3 linked regions of the Homo sapiens genome follow. The protein of the gene in region 1 interacts with the protein of each later gene in a biochemical or structural test. Each region holds a gene or a part of one and is shown in the gene's direction. Other genes may lie near its edges.

Region 1 (7,023 bases):
CTTGCTGATAATTCTTGAATTTTGACAGGTCTAGGCTGGTTATGTGTTTTGGGAGGCAGTTACTATTTTAAGGTATAGAATTGTATTATGCAACCATATTCTGCTAAAATCTGGACTTTTAGAAAAACCATTCTGTTCATTTGTAGTTAATATGTTTCATCCCCAGAAGTATCTTAATTGGTCAGCTTTAGGTTATTCCAAGTAAAAATGATCTATTCCATGCATTTGATATTAGATTTGTATAAAAGCAAGTCTTGTCCCTTCATCAGTACAAGTAGGGACCTCTACTGGCCCTGGATATTACAACTCATTAGTAGTATCCTTAACAACTTGATAACTAAGATGCCCTTTGAGTTTTAGGGCCTCTCTGAAACGCACTCAACTTAGAATTCTATTTTTATAAGCAAAGTTTCTTCCACTTTATCAAAAGATATTTTTAATATGACCATTGGTGATACTGGACTAAGATTCCTTTATACTTATTATATAAATAATTACTTACATAATTACATATGATTATAATTATTAATAATTATAACCATTAATTAATATACTAAATTATAATTGTATTAATTATATAAATAATATACAAATTCTATTAGTTTATACATTTTATAATATAAATTATGTGATAATTTCACATTTAATTAATATAATGAAATTATTATTATAAATAATAGTTATTTGTAACTCTGTTATAAATGTGTAACTCTTTATAGCTCATGGTAATAGTGTGATCAGCTGGGCTGATCAGTTATAAATTTACAACTCTCAGTTATATGTTTATACCTGTCAGTTTTTTTTAAAAGAGCCAATACAGTCATCAAGCACCTACACACGTTTTTTACTAAAGATGATACCAAAGGTGATACCAGTAATCCCTCATTGTGGAATTGCTTTTTGAGTTGTTTTTCCAGTAATAGCAAAGGTTTTCAACTTGCAAGATAAACTATTCAGTATGTATTTTGGGGACGACTGGCTGAAGTTAGTAAAAGTTGTGGCTGTGTGATGGAACAAAGCTAAATGGCCCTTGACAGAATCTCACCTTATCCAGACCTTCTTAGTCCTGACTCTGAAGTAAATAGTCAAAGATAGAGCAGTCAGATATATGTAATCTAACTAGTATTTTTGTAAACTGGTGATAATTTTATAAGTTTGTTGACTTTACCAAAAAAGAGTTGAAACATAAGAATTTAATCTTACCATATATACGTCCTTTCTAGAGAATGGCTAGAATTTAAGTATAATAATGCAGACATTTCAACTTGTTCTTGGTTAGTTTGTGGGGAAAAATAAATTTTATATATCACTTAATTTTAATGGTTTTTCACATGATAAGATTAACCTTTCTTCCTAGAGAGCTATATTCTTAGCTCATTACAAACAACTAAAATTTTATATTTTTAAAATCTGATATCAAAAGTGAATTTTGATAGGCAGAATATCCCCTCTTCTTTTATTTACTCTTCTACTTTAATTTTATATTGTGAAAAATATAAAACTGCCTATTACCAGAACTTACAGGCTCCTTAAGAGGAGAAACTTAATATTTTCTTTCGAATTCTCAAAGTGCCCAGTAATTTGTTTTCATGTAGAAGGTAAATAATTGTTTATTAAATAGTACCAAAAAGTGAAACCAACATGACTTTAAAAAGAAAAATTGGCTGGATGCAGTGGCTCACACCTGTAATCCCAGCACTTTGGGAGGCCGAGGTGGGTGGATCACCTGAGGTCTGGAGTTCGAGATCAGCCTGTCTAACATGGTGAAACCCCATCTCTACTAAAAATACAAAATTAGCTGGGTGTGGTAGCAGGTGCCTGTAACTGTAATCCCATCTACTTGGGAGGCTGAGGCAGGAAAATCGCTTGAACCCGGGAGGTGGAGGTTGCAATGAGCTGGAATCGTGCCACTGCACTCCAGCCTAGACTCTGTCTCCAAAAAAAAAAAAAAAGAGAAAAATTGACTTCAATTCTGTATTTTCTAAAAACTCTTAGGCAGACTTTTAGAGTTGAATATCTAGAAGTGATACCCTATTCTATGTTCCCTGAGGATCTGAGGATGCTTTAAAAGTTCAGAGTATCCTACCCAGAACTCTGAGTAAAAGGTTATGGAGACCTGGAGCATTATATATATATTCCACTGGAAATTCTATAAGAAGTAGAAACCCTACGTTGGAGCCAATAAATACTTACATAATTTTTTCCCCTCTTACCAAAATATATATCTTGTCATAATTATAAAGGAAGAGTCATTCCTTTATTTTTTATTTATTTAGCCTGTGCAACGAAGCAAGTATTATGCTAGAGGCTCAGTTCTAATGGGGAATGGTAGAATATGGTGTTACCGTAGGGAAAAATACTGGGCATTATGAGAGCCTGGGAAAGGTGCGACTATCCAGTCTTAAGGTGGGGAGATTTTCCAGAAGACTTAAAGGATAAGTAGGGTTCAGCCAGGTGACTTGTGGGGGAAGGTGTTCTAGGCACAAGGAACAATATATAGTAGTCTCCCTTTATCCTGGAGGGGCAGAGCTATGCCTGAAACCACAGATAGTACCGAACCCTATAGAGACTGTGATACACAGTAAGAGATTAACAGTAACTCATAAGAAAATAGAGCAATTATAATAATATACTGTAATAAAAGATATGTGAATATGGTCTCTCAAAATATCTAATGGTGTTGTATTCACCCTTTTTGCGACAATGTGAGATGGTACAATGCTTGTGTGGTAAGTTGAATGACCACGGCTATAACTTGCAGTTCAAGGCGCAACTGCAAAACTAGCACTAATCTCTTTTTTCTTCTTCCCAAGTTCATGGATAGGTTTAATCTTACTGTAAATCATAGCAAATCAGCATACAATATTTTTTATTCCTTATTAAGAACTTTCACCTTTTCACTTAAAGGGAGCACTTTACGGCTTCTCTTTGGCATATCCGAATTGCCAGCATCACTACTCTGCACTTTGGGACCATTATTAAGTAAAATAAGGGTTACTTAAACACAACTACTGTTGATACTGTGACAGTCGATCTGATAACCAACACAGCTACTAGTGAAAAATAGGTGGGGAGCGAATACACTGTGGATACACTGGATAAAAGAATGATTCTCGTTCTAGGCAGGATGCTGAGAGATTTCATCACACAGCTTAAAACTTATGAATTGTTTATTTCTGGGATTTTCCATGTAATATTTTTGGGCTGCAGTTGACGCTTGGTTACTGAAACCATGGTTAAGGGAGACTGCTGTACACAAAGGCCAGGGGCAAGAGTATACAGCACCTTAGCGGAAATAAAAGTGATTCAGAATCAGTGAGGAGGGACAAGAAAAGTTATCAGAGGTCTGATCATATTGGAAGCATTATGGCATCCCTTTAAGGGGAAAAAAGTTTTGTGGTACTTTGTTGCAGAGCTGAATTGATCTGATTATAAATTAATATCTGTAGGATTCTTATTCTTGTAGCATAATCCATTACAGGTACTTGATCATACATATTCTTTATAGTTTTGGAGAGAGCCTTGTAAGAGTGAAACTTTAAACACCTTAAATAGAAAAGCCCTCTCATATGTTCAAACCATCTATCTACTGGCACATCTCAGAATATGCAAAAGTTTGGAATGCTTGTTGGCTGGTACAGAAACTTCCTGGTTTACTCTGATAAGGTCATTTTATTTCTAACATGGGAGTATGTAGCATACTTCATGAGACCTTTAATTCAGATTCTTTATATAAAATGTAGATAAAATCACATATTTAGTTTCTGTATTTCATATGCCAAAGCTATGTTGATTTAAATACTGTAATGTTTTTGGCTTTTAAAATTGAATTTAAAAAAATATTTCCTGCAGGAAGCAAGAAGTGACAAGAGTCCAGATTTGGCACCTACTCCTGCCCCACAGAGCACACCACGAAACACTGTCTCTCAGTCAATTTCTGGGGACCCTGAGATAGACAAAAAAATCAAGAACCTAAAGAAGGTGAGAGACTTAAAAACAGATGTGCATATTGAAAGGTATACATGAAAATTATATAAGTAAGAGAGTACTTAGATGCCTAAAGACAGGTATCTAAGAAGTTGGTATCAGCAGTTCTCATTGTTGTTTTCTCACTATGAAGCACTGTTCACTTAGGAATGGTATTGATTTTAGTTCTATTCATAAATGTCTGAAGACTCTTAGTACTTTGATTTTTGGAGTAATAAAATTCAGTGTGCATCAGCATAGAAATATACTGAACACTTTTTTTTTTTGAGACGGAGTCTTGCCCTGTTGCCCAGGCCGGAGTACAGTGCCACAACCTTGGCTCACTGCAACCTCCGCCTCCCAGGTTCAAGCGATTCTCCTGCCTCAGCCTCCCGAGTAGCTGGGACTACAGGTGTGCGCCACCACGCCTGGCTAATTTTTATATTTTTAGTAGAGACAGGGTTTCACCATGTTGGCCAGGCTGGTCTCAAACTCCTGCCCTCAGGTAATCCACCCGCCTCGACCTCCCAAAATGCTGGGATTTGTGAGCCTCCTCGCCTGGCCACTGAACACTTTTTAATTTAATTTAATTTTTTTTTTTGAGACAGAGTCTTGCTCTGTCGACCAGGTTGGAATGCAGTGGCGCGATCTCGGCTCACTGCAAGCTCCGCCTCCCGGGTTCAGGCCATTCTCCTGCCTCAGCCTCCCGAGTAGCTGGGACTACAGGCGCCTGCCACCACACCTGGCTAATTTTTTGTATTTTTAGTAGAGACGGGGTTTCACCGTGTTAGCCAGGATGGTTTCAATCTCCTGACCTCATGATCTGCCTGTCTCAGCCTCCCAAAGTGCTGGGATTACAGGTGTGAGCCACTGCACCTGGTCACTCAATACTTTTATACTCAGTATTTCATTAGATACCTTGTGATAATTAGGGGCAGATATTTATCCTAGTTTTGAAGATGAAGAGACAGAGACAAAAAAGAAGTGTATTGATTTGTGATATTGCAGCCAGTGTGCTGGGGTGGCCCTGGGGATAAAAAAAGGTCTCTAGAGCCCTTCACAGCTGCATTATGAGGTTTCTCTTTCATTCACTTTTTATCGGGCAGGACTTTGGACCAACAATCTTTCAGAATGCTCTCATTGAGATTTCTCTCAAAGCCAGAAACATCACCCAGGTCCAATGGGGCATTGAAATGTGCCATTACTGATACATTTATATATACACATGCATACACGATAACATTAATTAAAAGCCTGAGAATAATATTTTGCCAAATCTCATGTTTTTAACATTTACAATTTTGCATTTAACTTTAAAAAACAATTTATCCTAGCATTTTAACAGACCATTGTTGATACAAATCTAAGATAATTAATCTCCTTACTTGAGTTTCACATTCTTAATAAGGAAATTTGCATTTGAAGTGACTTTTCTTCCATGCTCTTGACTCATATTTGATGTTTGCAGAAACTGAAAGCAATCGAACAACTGAAAGAACAAGCAGCAACTGGAAAACAGCTAGAAAAAAATCAGGTACTTTCTGCATTTTTCATTTAGGCTTGTGGTGACCACCAGCCTTCCCCCTTTTATTATAAACAAGTATTTAGTCAGGTAAAAGAGCACATGGAGTTTAAAAACTTATTTTGAAAACCATATGCCATATTCTTTTTAATGTTTTTACTTTTAAATAGCTTTACTCTTAAATAGAAGAGATATGGTATTGATCATGTGAATGAAAAAGTCAATATTCCTAAGAGGCATACTATGTTATTACTGCTGAAAATAATAGCAATTTGTTATATTAGACAAATATAAGATTCTCTCAAGTTGTACTGCCCTGTTTGCCTTTTCCCTCCTCCTGTCAACATGTTTAAGCCCGAATATAGAATTGAAAATTTTTGGGGCCCAAAGGGATGCAGTAAGACAGTGTCTGTTCTTTTCACCCTCGATTCATACCAGATAACAAATTAGAATTTGTTTCTAACCTGTATTTTAAAATCTGTGTTTACTAGTGAACATAATAAATTGTCAGAAATACCATTTTTTCTGTATTATTTTGGTTACATATCCAGTAATTATTTCATAATAACTTCATTGTTTCAAACTTTTCTAGTTGGAGAAAATTCAGAAAGAAACAGCCCTTCTCCAGGAGCTGGAAGATTTGGAATTGGGTATTTAAAGATTCACGGAAAGCAAGTTGATGACCAGAAATCAGTGCAAACACATCTTCTGTTAAACCCATTGGTATACACAGAATATTCCTGTGCCCACACTTAATGTCAATCTATAATTTTAACCATTTATCCAAGATTCTACTAAGTGTAAAATTATTTAATAATGTCTATTAAATTGATATTTATATCTTGCATCCTATATCATGTCAATATGTGATATAGAAAAGAGATACGTGAATTTTTTAGCTAAGCTTGACAGATTGAAAGACAAGTGTCATTTTTTTTTGTAGAGGGTGATATATACCATGTAAATGAACAAAGACATTTTAAATTTAATCACTGTTTTTATTATAAGTTCCTTAGTTCAGATATCCTTTATTAATTTATAAGATGTGTAAAACTACTTAATTCTCACAAGACTCTATGAAGTAATTCTTTTAATCTCTATTTTATAAATGAAAAAACTAAGGCCATAAATTTAAGAAATTTGTCAGTGTCTCAAAGCTAGGAAATGGCCATCTAATCCCAGAGCCTATGCTTTAGGTCACTATGATATATACTACTCCTGTATCCTCAAGTAATGTATCATTTAGTAACACTAAGCACCCTGCTTAGTTTTCATGGATACTGCCAAATTGCCCTATCTCAAGCTTTATACTTGCACCATTTAAAGTTTTCCACACTGTTGGCAATATCAGAAGTGATAAGGCTTTGAAATGTTCGCCACTTTGATAAAGAGGAAATGATTGTTTGTTACTGTTATATACATGTATTTTTATCAGAGATGGGTTATGTACTTTTCCACGTTTGATAGTTGGTTGTATTTCTTTAGTGAATTGATTTTTCTTTTCCTTTGCCCATTTTTCTGTTTGGATGTTTGAC
Region 2 (7,023 bases), on another chromosome or scaffold:
TTCTCAGGGTAGCCAGTCACTGTATCGATTTAATATTAAGTCTCATTCCAGTAAAAGCAGGGACTTTGGAAAACCTTGGATGCACCTATTCCAGACAGATTCCTGTATTCTTTTTTTTTTTTTTTTTTGAGATAGAGTCTCGTTCTGTCGCCAGGCTGGAGTGCAGTGGCACAATCTTGGCTCACTGCAATCTCCGCCTCCTGGGTTCAAGCGATTCCCCTGCCTCAGCCTCCTGAGTAGCTGGGACTACAGGCACACACCGCCACGCCCGGCTAATTTTTTGGATTTTAGTAGAGACAGCGTTTCACCATGTTGTCCAGGATGGTCTCAGTCTCCTGTCCTCGTGATCCGGCCTCCCAAAGTGCTGGGATTACAGGTGTGAGCCACTGCGCCGGGCCTGATTCCTGTATTCTTTAAAACGGGAAAAAAGACAAGCAGCAGCTCCTCAGGTCACAAGGCCAGGTATATCAAACACTGGCCTCCGAGAATAGATCATGCCACCAAGTGAAAGAAACCTCTTCTTGGTCCTGTTGTGATTTTAGATAAAGTAGTCATGGAAGCTTGGTCATTACTATAGTCTTAATGTTATTTTTTTTAAAAAGGGGATTTAGTTGGGCTGATTTCCTCCCCTAAAGGTCCTCTGTCACCTTATTTAAATTTAAAACTGGTTTTACCAGAAAATAGGTAAACAAACACCACTGGTTGTCTCCAGTCTCTTTTCTTGCTCTTCCTCTCCCTCTTCTTTAAAAATGTGGCTGATGAGAACCTGTTTCCAGGAGCCCTTTAATCACTCTGAAACACACAGACACTGAAAATGTTGAAGCATAAAAATAAACCTTGCGTTACAGGGAGATTGCCTGTGTGCTGTCCACTTCGCTTATAACAGTGAAAGTAGGAGATTAAAAAAAAAAAAAAGTTAAGCCCTGTCTTTAAGATGGTTTTTGTGACACCTGATTCCAGATGTGCTTTTTCACAGCCATAGACTTCCTGCTTTTGCAGAAGGAGGGTTCTAATCTGGGGCTCGTAGCTTGGGGGATTCTTAGTTTGTGAGCTGAGCTTTTTGTTCACTTCTTTTCCAAATGACTCTGCTGGCCTGAAGCTTGGCAGTTGTGAAAGCAATCAGCAAGATGACTGTTTGTCTTCCAGCCAGCAGCAGCAGTCACAGGCAAGCCTGGAGAAAGGTCCAGCTTCCAGAGTTCACCTGCTAGAGTTTTCCATAACACCTGGGGGAGAGGCTACTCCATCTGGGACCTGCCCCACCTCTGGGCCTCAGAAACTATGAGAGAGGGATTGAGAGAAAACTTGCCCCACTTCTGCTGCAGTGGGAAGGGAGGGGGCTGCTGTCAGGCTTCTAGGCAGTGAGCGGCATTGTTTATTCTCTCAGTTCTAGGAAGGGGAGTTTAGAAGTACTGGTGAAGAAAACAAAGTTACAAGATCCTATAAGGAACAGCTGAACTACTCCAAACACTCTCACTGGACCCCCATTGTTGATTCTGGATAAAAATATATATATATATAAAACTCTTTTTTTTTTTGACACAGAGTCTTGCTCTGTCGCCCAGGCTGGAGTGTAGCGATGCGATCTCGGCTCACTGCAACCTCCGCCTCCCGGGTCAAGCGATTCTCCTGCCTCAGCCTCCTGGGAGTAGCTGGGACTACAGGCGCCCACCACCATGCTGGCTAATTTTTGTATTTTTAGTAGAGACGGGGTTTTGCCATATTGGCCAAGCTGGTCTCGATCTCCTGACCTCAGGTGATCTGCTGGATAAATATTTTTTTTTTGCTTTTGGTGTAACTTAGGTAGATTGGATCGGCTAGCTAGCATCTCAGTCCACACTCTGAGCTGTGCAGCAGTGTGCCCTGGTGCTAATTCTCACTCTGTCCTTTGATTCTGGCCAGGGGGTCCTTGGTGGTGCTGCCTTCTGGTCAGGAATGTGGGTGAATGTCAGACCAAATAGTGTCACTTTCGGCTTGGCCCTAGAGATCAGGAAGGAAGTGTTGTTAGAGCAAGGGCTTTGGGAGTCCTTGGAGTTCGTAACCTTTGAATCTGAAAAGTAACTGTACCTAGTAAATTAGAATAATTTCTCTCTGGTCAGGCACCATGGCTCATGCCTGTAGTCCTAGCACTTTGGGAAGCCAAGGCAGGAGGATTGCTTGAGGCCAGGAGTTCAAGACCAGCCTGATCAATAAAGTGAGACTCCATCTCTACAAAAAAATTTTTTTAAATTTAGCTGGGCATGGTGGCACATGCCTGTGGTTGCAGCTACACAGAAGGCTGAGGCAGGAGGATGGCTTGAGCTGGGGAGGTCGAGACTGCATTGAGCTGTGTTTGTGCCACTGCACTTCAGCCTGGGTGACAGAGCAAGACACTATCTCAGAAAAAAAAAATTACTTTTCTCCAATTTATGGACTTCGGAAAGTAGCTAAACAGATGGATATAAGACAGTTGTTGAAACTCGGCCTGCTGCAGATTAAAATAAAGTTTGCACAAGGATAACTTAATCTTTCAGACCAACCAAAGTTTGGGCTGGAGATTTTTCTCAGCATAAATGTCCTAAGCAGAGTTGGTGCCTATGAGGTAGGAAAAGATTGAGACTTTGCTTGCCTAAGAGGTTTGCAGGGTTCGAGCTTTTGGGAGTCAGAACTTCTCAGACTAGATTGTTTCCCCTTTGGACAGAACAACCCAATTCTCAGTGGGCATTTGATCAGGACTAACCCAGGCCTTCATGAACTCTTTCCCATTGAGCACTTAGCCACCTGGCTGGCATTTCTCTTCTCCCAGGAGCTTCCATGAGGTTCCTACTTATGTATTATGTCGACTTGAATGAATATTTTATGTCTAGAGTGCAGCCAAGCCTCAGACTTTGTGGCCCATTATCGACAAATGGGGTAGGGGGTGGGCGCCACCTTTGGCCCCGTGATAGCTTCTCTGCTAAATGGACTCCCCCCAGCAGCACTTTGAAGCCCATTAATGGATTGGAATGAAGTAACCTCAGCAGATGGAAAGGGTGAGGAGGGTGGTCATCTTCCTTCCCTGAGACTGCCTGATGAGGCTTTCCTACAGTAACCAGGACAAGCCCCTATTCCCTCTGCTTGGTTAAGCTGTGGACTGGAGCTACTAGGCCTCTGCTTTGAGAGGAAGTATAGAAAGGATTTGATTCTCTTTTAGCCATGGTGGGGCCGCCAGTTTCCCCACTTTCCCATCAAAGCAAAAATTGAGAAGGATGTGGAAAGGGTGGGTGGAGTTTAAAGCTGGCCCTTCCTCCTTCAGTGGAAGTTCAGCAAAATGACAAACCAGATAGGTGGCTAAATTTCCTTCTCTTGATGGGAGATTCCAGTATTTGTACGTTTTGTGCTTGTAGCTTGGATTCTCCAGGCCTCCTCCCAGCTTTCATCAAACATGAGTGAGTCACTGAAGTGTTGTCTATGCATTTTCTCCCTTCTGTCTCTGCAAAGGGAAGAGTAAGCCTTTACAAACCTGTGGGGGAGGAAGTCACCCTCTTCCCACTGCTGGAGAGCCAGGCTATCCCCAGGTTAACCCTGAAAGTGCTAACTCCTGAGCAGAATGTTACTGCCACCCGCCCCCTTCCTTTTTGTTATAGGCCATTGAAGGTCATTGCTCGTCTTTTTTTTTGAGACAGTCTTGCTCTGGTCACCCAGGCTGGAGTGCAGTGGCAGGATCTCAGCTCACTGCAACCTCCACCTACTGGGTTCAAGCGATTCTCATGCCTCAGTCTTCCAAATAACCAGGATTACAGGTGCGCACCTCCATGCCTGGCCACTTTTTGTATTTTTAGTAGAGATAGGGTTTCACCATGTTGGCCAGGCTGGTCTTGAACTCCTGGACTCAAGTGATCCGCCTGCCGTGGCCTCTCAAAGTACTGGGATTACAGGAGTGAGCCACCGCGCCCGGCATCATTGCTTATCTTTTAGACTGAGATAGTACAGCTGATTCTAAACAGCACCCAGAGAGAATCTGGCCTCTTGATTTCCAGTTGTGTCTCAGAGGAGGAGGCATCCCAGTTCCTCCTCTTGCCCTCTAGACATCTCCTCCTCTGATAAGTATAAATAGGCTAGATCCCTTTATCTTCATATCTGTTTTTGTCTGGAATGTTTCAAGTTTCTCAAGCTAGGTGTGGTGGCTCATATCTGTAATCCCAGCACTTCGGGAGGCCACGGCAGGAGGATCACTTGAGCCCAGGAGTTCAAGACCAGCCTGAGCAACATAGTGAGACCTCATTTCTACAAAAAAAAAATTTTTTTTTTGAGACGGAGTCTTGCTCTGTTGCCCAGGCTGGAGTGCAGTGGTGCGATCTCAGCTCACTGCAACCTCCGCCTCCCGGATTCAAGTGATTCTCCTGTCTCAGCCTCTTGAATAGCTGAGATTACAGGTGTACGCCACTGTACCCCGCTAATTTTTGTATTTTTAGTAGAGATGGGGTTTCACCATGTTGGTCAGGCTGGCCTTGAACTCATGACCTCGTGATCTGCCTCAGCCTCCCAAAGTGCTAGGATTATAGGCATGAGTCACCCCGCCTGGCCAAAAAAAATTTTTTTTTTTTTTTTGAGACGTTGTCTTGCCCTGTCGCCCAGGCTGGAGTGCAGTGGCACGATCTCGGCTCACTGCAAGGTCCGCCTCCCGGATTCACGCCATTCTCCTGCCTCAGCCTCCCGAGTAGCTGGGACTACAGGTGCCCGCCACCACACCCGGCTAATTTTTTTGTATTTTCAGTAGAGACGGGGTTTCACCTTGTTAGCCAGGATGGTCTCGATCTTCTGACCTCGTGATCCACCCACCTCGGCCTCCCAAAGTGCTGGGATTACAGGCGGGAGCCACCGCGCCCAGCCCAAAAAAATTTTTAAAAAGTTACCTGGGTGTGGTAGCACATGCGTGTATCCCACCTACTCAGAAGGCTGAGATGTGAGGATCACTTGAGCCTGGGAAGTTGAGGCTGCAGTGAGCTGTGATCATGCCACTGCATTCCAGCCTGGGCAACAGAGTGAGACCCCATCTCAAGATAAATAAGGTTTGTCAGTCCCTGTGGTGGTTCTTTCCGCAGATGTCTGTCTTTGGGTTGGCACTTATTTCCCCCTACTTGCAGTTATTCCTTACATTTCTCATTAGAAAATGGCAAAAAGGGCAAAAGTAAATTCATTTCCTTTTTACACCAAATCATTAATTTTAGGCTTATAAAACTAAATGAACAGAAGATTTGGTAGGAGAGGAGGGGAGATGGACACTGATACTGGTGGCTAGGTGATCCTGAGGGACAACTGGTGCCTGGCAGAAAGAGAGGAGGGCTGTGTTCAGTGACTGGCTCCCAGCCACCTTTTTGGCCTTTTTCTTTTTAACATGAGGAAGGCGGAGCAGACCAGGGGCTTCTCTGTAGAACCAGTCAAGCTGGTTTTGGGCAGCCTTGGCCTATTTTCTTGTGTGCTCTTTGGGAAGTTGGCAATACAAAGGTCTGCCTCCTTTGGGGCTGTGTTCGTTGAGGCGAAAGTTTGGAAGACAACTATCTGTCAACAACCCCCTTCTCCCCAAACACTGAATGGGTCTCTGAGCTGGTCCTTCACTCCAGGGAGGAGGCTTTCTCTCCACCCTATGCTGAACCTGAAGGCAGCTTTGCTTTATACACCTTTCACTGAAAGCTCTAAGACATTAACTCCTTTTTTGGACTCCCTTCCCAATTCACAACTTGGTGAAAGACCCTCAGCCTAGCCAGGAGGAAGGGACTGGGTCTGCCTTTGGCTCCTCATTTATGGGTCTGGGAGGGGATCAGGACTCCTTACTGCTATGATCTGGCTGCTAAATTCAGTGACATCCCAGGCCTTTTTTCGTCCACGCAATGGGACTGTCTGTCCAGGCCTGCTGGGAAAGAAAAGAGAGAAAAAATAGTTTTTGCTCTTTGGCAGCTTACAGGGACTTCAGCCATAGGAAACAACCTGTAGGAAAGGTGGGAGCTTCCGGTCACCATGTGTGCTGACACTTCCTGCAATAGCACTAGGAAGTCTTTCTCAGGGAGCAAGGCCAGCCAGGTAGGATTATTTCCCAGTCTCCCAGCTAAGCAGGAAATGCCAAAATATGAACGTTTAGTAATTAGTGAGTGTAACTACCTGCTGACAGAGCTCCAGCCTAGACCTTGTCCTTGGGGGCTGGTTGCCCCTGTTGATACTACAGTGAGCTACTCATTGCTTCTGATTACCATTTCAGTATGAGTTTTGCTTTGGTTTCTGATATCCCATGTGCGGCTGCCTTTTTTCTCCACCTTCTTTTTGTTGTGTCTTTTTGTTTTTTTGAGACGGAGTCTTGCTCTGTTGCCCAGGCTGGAGTACAGTGGCACAATCTCAGCTCACTGCAACCTCCGCTTCCCAGGTTCAAGCAATTCTGCCTTAGCCTCCCAAGTAGCTGGTACTACAGGCATGTGCCAGCACACCCGGCTAATTTTTTTTTTTTTTTTTTTGAGACAGGGTCTCGCTCTGTCGCCCAGGCTGGAGTGCAGTGGCGCGATCTCAGCTCACTGCAAGCTCTGCCTCCCGGGTTCACACCATTCTCCTGCCTCAGCCTCCCGAGTAGCTGGGACTTCAGGCGCCCACCACCATGCCCAGCTAATTTTTTGTACTTTTTTTTTTTTTAAAGTAGAGATGAGGTTTCACCATGTTAGCCAGGATGGTCTCAATCTCCTGACCTCATGATCCACCCACCTCGGCCTCCCAAAGTGCTGGGATTACAGGCGTGAGCCACCGTGCCCGGCTGTAACACCTGGCTAATTTTTGTATTTTTAGTAGAGATGGGATTTCACCATGTTGGCCAGGATGGTCTCGATCTCCTGACCTCGTGATCCGCCCGCCTCGGCTTCCCAAAGTGCTGAGATTGCAGGCGTGAGCCACCGCGCCTGACCTTGTTGGTGTTTTTAAGAGACAGGGTCTCACCCTGTCACCCAGGCTAGTATGCAGTGGTGTGATCATAGCCCACTGCGGCCTCAAATAGCTCCTAGGCTCAAGTGATTCTCCCACCTTAGCTTC
Region 3 (8,012 bases), on another chromosome or scaffold:
AAATATTTTCAATTTTACTGGTCATGCAGTTTCTGTCACAGTGACTCAACACAACTCATCTTAGTGTCAAAGCAGCCATAGACAATATATAGATGAATGAATGTGGTTGTGCACTAATAAAGCATTATTTACAAAAACAGGCAGCAGCCCAGTTTTGGCCCAGATCTATTCTAGACAATGAAATAATTAGCGAATAAAACAGTCAAAAATCCCTGTCCATGTGACTTTACATGTCAGAGGAAGGAGAAAACAAAGACAATAAATCAATAAGTTGTATTGTATAATAGAAGGCTGTAAGTGCCATGGAGGGGAAATAGAATAGAATGAGGGGGATAGGGAGTGACAACAGGGTGACAGTAGTGATTGGAACTTAAATAGTGTAGTCAGGGGGCTTCGTGAGCAAGTGACGTTTCAACAAGATCTGTGAGTTTTGCAGATATCTGAAGGATGAGGTTCCAGGCAAAAGGAAGAGCAAGTACAGAGGCACTGAGACAGTAGTATACCTGGCATTCTTGAAAAACCACAAGGAGGACAATGTAACTAGAGGAGAATGAAAGAGGGGCAGAGAAACAAGAGACGAGGTTAAAGTGGCAACCAGGGTGCAGGAAATATAGTGTCTTGTAAGCCCTTGATGATTCTGGGCTTGACTTTTTTCTTTCTTTCTTTCTTTCTTTCTTTCTTTCTTTCTTTCTTTCTTTCTTTCTTTCTTTCTTTCTTTTCTTTCTCTTTCTTTCTTTTTTTTTTTTTTTTTTTTTGAGACAGTCTCTCTCTGTCGCCCAGGCTGGAGTGCAGTGGCATGATCTCAGCTCACTGCAACCTATGCCTCCCAGGTTCAAGCAATTCTCCTGCCTCAGCCTCTGGAGTAGCTGGAACTATAGGCATGCACCACCATGCCCAGCTAATTTTTGTATTTTCAGTAGAGACAAGGTTTTGCCATGTTGGCTAGGCTGGTCTCGAACTCCTGGCGTCCAGTGATCCACCCACCTCGGCCTCCCAAAGTGGTGGAATTACAGCCGTGAGCCACCACGCCCGGCCTTCTTTCTGTATTCTGCATGATGAAAGGGACAAGGCAGATCTCTGGGGCCTCTTTTATAAGAGCACCAGTTCCACCACCCAAAGGCCACACCTCCTAATACCATCACATTGGTGATTCGCTTTTAACTTATGAGTTTTAGGGAGGACACAAACATTCAGACCATAGCGATGATTTTATAATAATGTGCATGTGGGGACTATTGACAAGAAGAGTTTATAAGTAAGCAAGACAAATTACTAAAGCAGAAACATCTGAGGAAAAGAGCCACAAGAGATATGGTACAACATAAATATGGACCACTCTACAATTTCCAAAAGCAGGAATAACAGTTATTATTTTTCCTCTGCTAGTAAAAAGAGAATTAAGAATAATTGATACATACGATTCTTCTATCTGTGTCTGATTCGTTGCTTTAGCATTACACATTTTGATCTAAAAGTCACTGTATTAAAAGAGATAGACTTATGGGATTGACTATAGGTCAATAACCATACTGATATTCACAAAGAGTTACGTAGTAAGGCCTGAGAAGCCCATGTGGATAAACTCACACATATCCTCCATTCCTGCTGTCACAGCCTCTTTATTTGTTGAAACAAGCACAGGGATAGCTGGGGAAAAGGCTAACAGAAGTCTTCTTGCTCAACTGCTTCTCAAAAGCCTCTTTAGAAGTGGTTGCCTTTGGTGAACATTCAAAAGGGAGCCCAATATGCACACTCTGCCCATTCGAAGTGGTTCAAGCACATCATTTCCCTAGACCTCATCATCAGCCCTCTGATATCATTCCTTCCAACTCTCTGAACATCAGCTGCATTGCCAGCCACTGGCTCTGTATAAGCCACTGAAGGAGGGGACTTTGGATCTTCTTGGGGTCCATGGTTAGGAAGTAAGTGACTAGGTTGCATAAGATGAATCTACTCCAATATTCCTGACTCCCTAAGTATTTTTGATTTCTTCATCTGCATTACTTGGCATTACATTTACATTTAGTGTGAGCTGCCACTGAGCTGATATTATAGTAAACCAACTGGGCAAACTGGCTTAGCGCTCCCACTGCTAGAGGCAGTACATCAACTTTCTTTCTTTTTTTTTTTTTTTTCTTGCTCTGTTGCCAGGCTGGAGTGCAGTGGCACGATCTTGGCTCATTGCAACCCCGACTCCCTGGTTCAAGCGATTCTCCTGCCTCAGCCTCCCAAGTAGCTGGGATTACAGGCACATGCCACCACGCCCAGCTAATTTTTGTATTTTTAGTAGAGACGTGGTTTCACCATGTTGGCCAGGATGGTCTCAATCTCCTGACCTCATGATCCGCCCACCTCGGCCTCCCAAAGTGCTGGGATTACAAGCATGAGCCACCGCGCTCAGCCTCAACTTTCAGCTTTCTTCACGTCATCTTTAGACTCATTGCCATGTCTATTTCTTGCTTTCTGTTGCTCTTTTGTTGTGTAAAGCATCACCCCTCCATCAGATCTTGTCCATATCCTCTTGGGGCGCATTAGCATCTGATTCTAGTTCTAGGAGTGAAGGCACAGGTAGAGATAGGATATTTGGAGAATCAGCACCTCCTTGCAGGGTGACTGTTTCATGCTTTTTAATGTAGGCTGTACCAGCCTTATCAGACAATGGTGGGAAGCCTGTGGAGACACAGCAGAATTTAGGAGGGCAGTGGCACTTGGATTCATTCAAATCCACCCAAATTCCCAGGGCTTCTTTCTTTCACAATCAATGCCCTCAGTGTTCACAGAAGAGACCTGATGAGGCTGCAAATGAAAATTTTTGTTGTAATTCTAGGCTGGGCGCGGTGGATCACGCCTGTAATCTCAGTACTTTGGAAGGCCGAGGTGGGGGAATCACTTGAGGTTAGGAGTTCCAAACCAGGCTGGCCAATATGGTGAAACCCCTTCTCTACTAAAAATACAAAAATTAGCTAGGTGCGGTGGCACACGCCTGTAATCCCAGTTACTTGGCAGGCTGAGGCAGGGAAATTGCTTGAGCCCGGGAGCCAGAGGTTGTAGTGAGCCAAGATTGTGCCACTGCACTCCAGCCTCGGCAACACAGCAAGACTCTGTCTCAAAACAATTATATTGTAATTCTGGTGCCTGCAGCACCAAGCTTTGCAGCTGAGAGCCCAGACAGTAGGGAATTGGGCTCCTCAGGGAGTCCAATATGCTCACACTTTACCCATTCCAAGAGGTTCACCCATATCATATCATTCCCCTGGACCTCATCACCAACCCTCTGATATCATTCCTTCCAAATCTTTCCCCAGCAGAGAAGGCAGATTTTTACATCACCCCTGAGGCTCCCTGAAATAGGAGGGTTTTCTGGTACAGTCATAAAAGCGTGTGTCCTCTGATCATGCTTAAGCTTGCCATTTTTCATTCTTTAAGCTCTCTTGGGCAGTTCAGGGGCTCAAAAAGTCAGAAAAACTTGTCCTTGCTACTGCCATTGCTGCTGCCACAGCCATCCCACACCCACAAAGCTGACAAATGGACACACAGCACTGTCAGAGTTTTCTTGTCACCTGGAAATGCCACAAAAAGATGGCTCTGCCTCATGTCTACCTTCTAAACCTCCCGCCAGTGCTTTACATATAGGGGACTTAAGCTATGCCCAGGACCAGAGCTACAAGGAAAGTGTAGATTTTAGTTGTTGATACCCTGCAATGTGGGGTTGTTGGGGGATGGAGAAGGGAGGCTGGAGAGGATGCCTGCCTAGGTGTAATTTTTTTTTTTTTTTTTTGAATTGGAGTCCCACTCTGTCACCCAGGCTGGAGTGTAGTGGCATGATCTCAGCTCACTACAATCTCTGCCTCCCAGGTTCAAGCAATTCTCCCTGCCTCAGCCTCTGGAGTAGCTGGGATTACAGGTGCCTGCCACCACGCCCAGCTAATTTTTGTGTTTTTTAGTAGAGACGGGGTTTTGCCATGTTGGCCAGGCTGGTCCTGAACTCCTGACCTCAGGTGATCCGCCCGTCTCAGCCTCCCAAATTTCTGGGATTACAGGCATGAGCCACCGCGCCGGCCTAGGCATAATATTTAATGTATATTTGAGGTCTGTCTTTGGACCACCTTCCTCTCTTATCCCAGCTAAGATACTGAGAGTACAAACTCCTGGTTATAATTCTAACTCCGCTGCTTACTACCTGTGTTAATCCAAATTCTCTGTGCCTCAATACTCATTAGTCACTGTGCCAATGAACTCTGGAACTCTGTGTGACTCTGGGAGTGTGTCGCAGTCCATCAGGTGAGTAGAATTTCTATAAATCGAGGACTACTGGTGTTGGACTATGGTAGGAAGCTCCCTGGGGTACTGTAGGAAGCAGGTGTCTCTATTTAGCAGCAGGACTGGCCCACAGGTGCTTTTACAGCGGCTGGCAAGTGTCTGCTCATGAATGAATGGATGGGTGGGAGCGGAGTGAAGGAGATTACGCCCCCAGGCCTCTGATCCCCAGGCTTGTAAAGGTGAGGGGGCCGCGGTGTGGCAAGAGGGAAAGAGTGCTTTGGTGTTTACAGGCCCCGACTTGAACTGAATCCTGGCTTTGCCACTTACGAGCGGCAGGACCCCTGGGTGAGTTCATTTACTCAGTTTCCTCTATTGTAGAATGGAGCTGGTAAGATCCATCTTCCCAACCCCACCCCAAATATTTGTGTTGAGAGTAAGTGGAACCCTTGATTCGAGAACCTAGTGCGGCCAGCGGACTAGGCCAGCGGAGAACCCTAGGAGCCCCGGGGGCGGGGGATGGGGGTGCAGGGTCCTGGCCGTGCAGGGGCAGCACGTGGGTGCCAAGCCCGCCTGCCGGTGCCAAGCCCGCCCGCCGGTGCCAAGCCCGCCCGCCAGTGCCTCTCGCGCGCACTCTGGATCCAGCGCCAATTTACCCCAATCCCGTAGCAGACGAGGGCTTGTGCGAGAGGGGGCCGGGCGGCTGCAGGGAAGGCGGAGTCCAAGGGGAAAACGAAACTGAGAACCAGCTCTCCCGAAGCCGCGGGTCTCCGGCCGGCGGCGGCGGCGGCGGCGGCGGCGGCGCAGGTGAGCAGGGCAGGGGGCAGCCGAGGGAGCGCGGGGAGCGGGGGCCGGGGGGCCACGTACGAGGGGCTGCAGGCCCAGCCGGGGCGGGACTCGCCAATCCTGCGTCCCCAGCTCAGGACGCGGACGCTGATCCGAAGCCCCTGGCCCCGGCTGGGTCAGCACTGGGAGAGCAGGCCCAGGTCCGCAGCCCGGGTGTGGGGCCCTCCCCAAATCCAGGGAAAGGATCGTGGAGCGGGGTGGGGACTGAAAGCCATTTCCTTCCCGTGAAGAATTTTTATCAGTGCAAGTAACAAATATTTCCCAGGCAGCAGTTGTGGGGCGGGGTCTAGTGGAAGACGAATAGGCCTAGTGGCTTGACACATGGAAAATACGGAGGCCTGAAATACTCATAGACTGGCTGAACAATCTTTGGCTAAAAATCTCTTCCGTGGAGAGTTGCAGTAGTTTCCCAATTGCCTGGCCGCAGTTCCTGTTCCCACTCCGTATCCTCACCCCTGAACCTCCACCCCCTACCTCTTCTCCACACCTCAGCATCTGGAATGTTCCTTTAAGTAAGAACCAGACTCTCCCCTGCTCCGACCTTCCCCGTAGCTTTCCTGTCTCATCAGAATCCTATAAACATTTATTAAGGCTCACAGGCAAGGCCCCTCGCACCCCCTACTCCGGCCACGCTGGCTTCCTTGCTGTTCCTGGTGCACAGCCAAGCATCCTCCAGCCTCTAGGCCTTTGCACTGCTTGTTTCTTCTTTCTGGAAAGCTTCTTCCCCAGATAACTGCATGGGGAAATCCCTCCCTTATCCTGCACTGCTTCCCATGCCAGCTTATCAGAGCAGCCTTCCTCAAACAACCTGCCTATACAAGAAACCCCGCTCTGCCCTTGCTGTTCCCCCTTCCACTACTTCGGTTGTCAACATAGTAGTTATCACCTGGTGACATTTTCTTTCTTTTCTTTTCTTTTTTTTTTTTTTTGAGACAGATTCTCACTCTGTCGCCAGGCTGGAATGCAGTGGCACGATCTGGGCTCACTGCAACCTCTGCCTCTCAGGTTCAAGCGATTTTCCTTCCTCAGCCTCCCAGGTAGCTGGGACTACAGGTGCCCGCCAGCACAGCCAACTAATTTTTTTATTTTTAGTAGAGACAGGGTTTCACCGTGTTGGCCAGGCTGTATGTAGTCTGCTGGAAAGGAAGTGGAGGCATAGCCAAAATAATTTCTGGGCATTAGTAAGATGGACAAATATTATTTTTTAGTGATTATGATGGAGGTTTCTTCCAGATGAGTGAATAAGATGTAGAATCTGCTCCCCAAAGAGCTCACTAATTAGTTTAAAAAGCAGTCAGGGCTGTGTTGAAGGTTGGGCAAGGTGGAGTGGCAAGCCCATACTAGCTGACCCTCCAGCATCAAAGAAGGCTGTGTTGATCCTGATAGATGAGTGGATATTGGTGGGTACAGAGAGAATGCAGATATTGCACTATAAATGTAGAGAAAAGCAGGTGACAAGTCCTGGATGGGGTATCTGGAGATATTTTGGTACTCACTCATTCATTATTGAGCCTGGTCCCTTACCTGTAGTAATTCATGCTCTATTTTGGAAAATAGTTAAATAAGCAATTTTAATAAAGGGGATGAGCACTGTGGAAGAGCCTGTGAAGGAGTGTCTGGGATTTTGAGCTGAAATCTGTAGGAAGTAGAAATTGACCAGGCCAAGACAGCAGAAGGAATAGAGTCAAGGGCATTTTAGGAGGGAGCAGGTTGGACAGAGGCAGTTGGGAGTTCAGGAGAGAGTCCATGGTGGAAGCGTGCTTTTGAGAACCATCATTGTGTCCGTGGAATTTAAAGCCACAAACCTGGAGGTGATCACCAGGGGAGTGAGTCCAAGTAGAAAAGAGCAAGTCTAAGGACCGGGCCCAGTGATGCTAGAATATCTAGAAAAGAGGAAGTTAGAACCATAGAAAAGGTTAAAAAAAAAAAAATAGAAGAAAAGAAGTTGAAGATGAACCAGGAAAGGAGACAGAAAAGGAGTAGCTTGTCAGAACAGAAGAAAACCAGGCCCAGGTGCCATGGCTCATGCCTGTAATCGCAGCACTTTGGGAGGCCAAGGTGGGTGGATCACCTGAGGTCAGGAGTTTGAGACCAGCCTGGCCAACATGGGGAAACCCCGTCTCTACTAAAAATATAAAAAATTAGCCGGGCGTGGTGGTGGGCGCCTGTAATCCCAGCTACTCGGAATGCTGAGGCAGGAGAATCGCTTGAACCCGGGAGGCAGAGGTTGCAGCGAGCCGAGATGCCACCATCACACTCCAGCCTGGGCAACAAGAGCGAAACTCTGTCTCAAAAGAAGAAAACTAGGAGAGTGGGTGTCTTAAAAGTCCAAGCTAAGACAGGGAGAGGAGGGCGAAGAGGATGCGCAACCCCATCAAATGCTGGTTGTAAGTCAAGTAGAGAAGGACTAAGAACTGACTACTGGATTTAGTGATAGGGAAGCCATTGGTAACCTCGACAAAAACAATTTCAGTGGCTTGTGGAGACTGCATGATTGAATTGATGTTTTTTTGTTTGTTTGTTTTGTTTTTGTTTTTTTTTTTGAGACGGAGTTTCGCTCTTGTTGCCCAGGCTGGAGTGCAATGGCACGATCTCAGCTCACCGCAACCTCCACCTCCTGGGTTCAAGCGATTCTCCTTCCTCAGCATCCCGAGTAGCTGGGATTACAGGCATGTGCCACCACCCCGGCTAATTTTGTATTTTTAGTAGAGATGGGGTTTCTCCATGTTGGTCAGGCTGGTCTTGAAGTCCCGACCTCAGGTGATCTGCCCGCCTTGGCCTCCCAAAGTGCTGGGATTACAGGTGTGAGCCACCGCGCCTGGCCACTGAATTGATGTTTTAAAAAGATCATGATGTGGCTGTATTAAAAAAGAAAACAGATAATAACAAGTGATGGTGAGGATGTGGAG

The links. Proteins that work in one complex are often made in the same cells at the same time.
Region 2: of the proteins of EIF2A (region 1) and MARK2, one has a biochemical effect on the other in vitro, tested with the Homo sapiens proteins (one study listed by BioGRID).
Region 3: of the proteins of EIF2A (region 1) and EIF2AK2, one has a biochemical effect on the other in vitro, tested with the Homo sapiens proteins (4 studies listed by BioGRID, with this or other methods).

The regions. Positions count from the first base shown.
Region 1 is NC_000003.12:150,577,766-150,584,788, forward strand, and holds part of EIF2A (eukaryotic translation initiation factor 2A), read left to right. Parts: intron 1-3,852; coding exon 3,853-3,981; intron 3,982-5,434; coding exon 5,435-5,500; intron 5,501-6,080; coding exon 6,081-6,146; 3' UTR 6,147-7,023. UniProt on the Homo sapiens protein: Functions in the early steps of protein synthesis of a small number of specific mRNAs. Acts by directing the binding of methionyl-tRNAi to 40S ribosomal subunits.
Region 2 is NC_000011.10:63,842,108-63,849,130, forward strand, and holds part of MARK2 (serine/threonine-protein kinase MARK2), read left to right. Parts: intron 1-7,023. UniProt on the Homo sapiens protein: Serine/threonine-protein kinase. Involved in cell polarity and microtubule dynamics regulation. Phosphorylates CRTC2/TORC2, DCX, HDAC7, KIF13B, MAP2, MAP4 and RAB11FIP2. Phosphorylates the microtubule-associated protein MAPT/TAU.
Region 3 is NC_000002.12:37,153,960-37,161,971, reverse strand, and holds the start of EIF2AK2 (interferon-induced, double-stranded RNA-activated protein kinase), read left to right. Parts: upstream 1-4,991; 5' UTR 4,992-5,064; intron 5,065-8,012.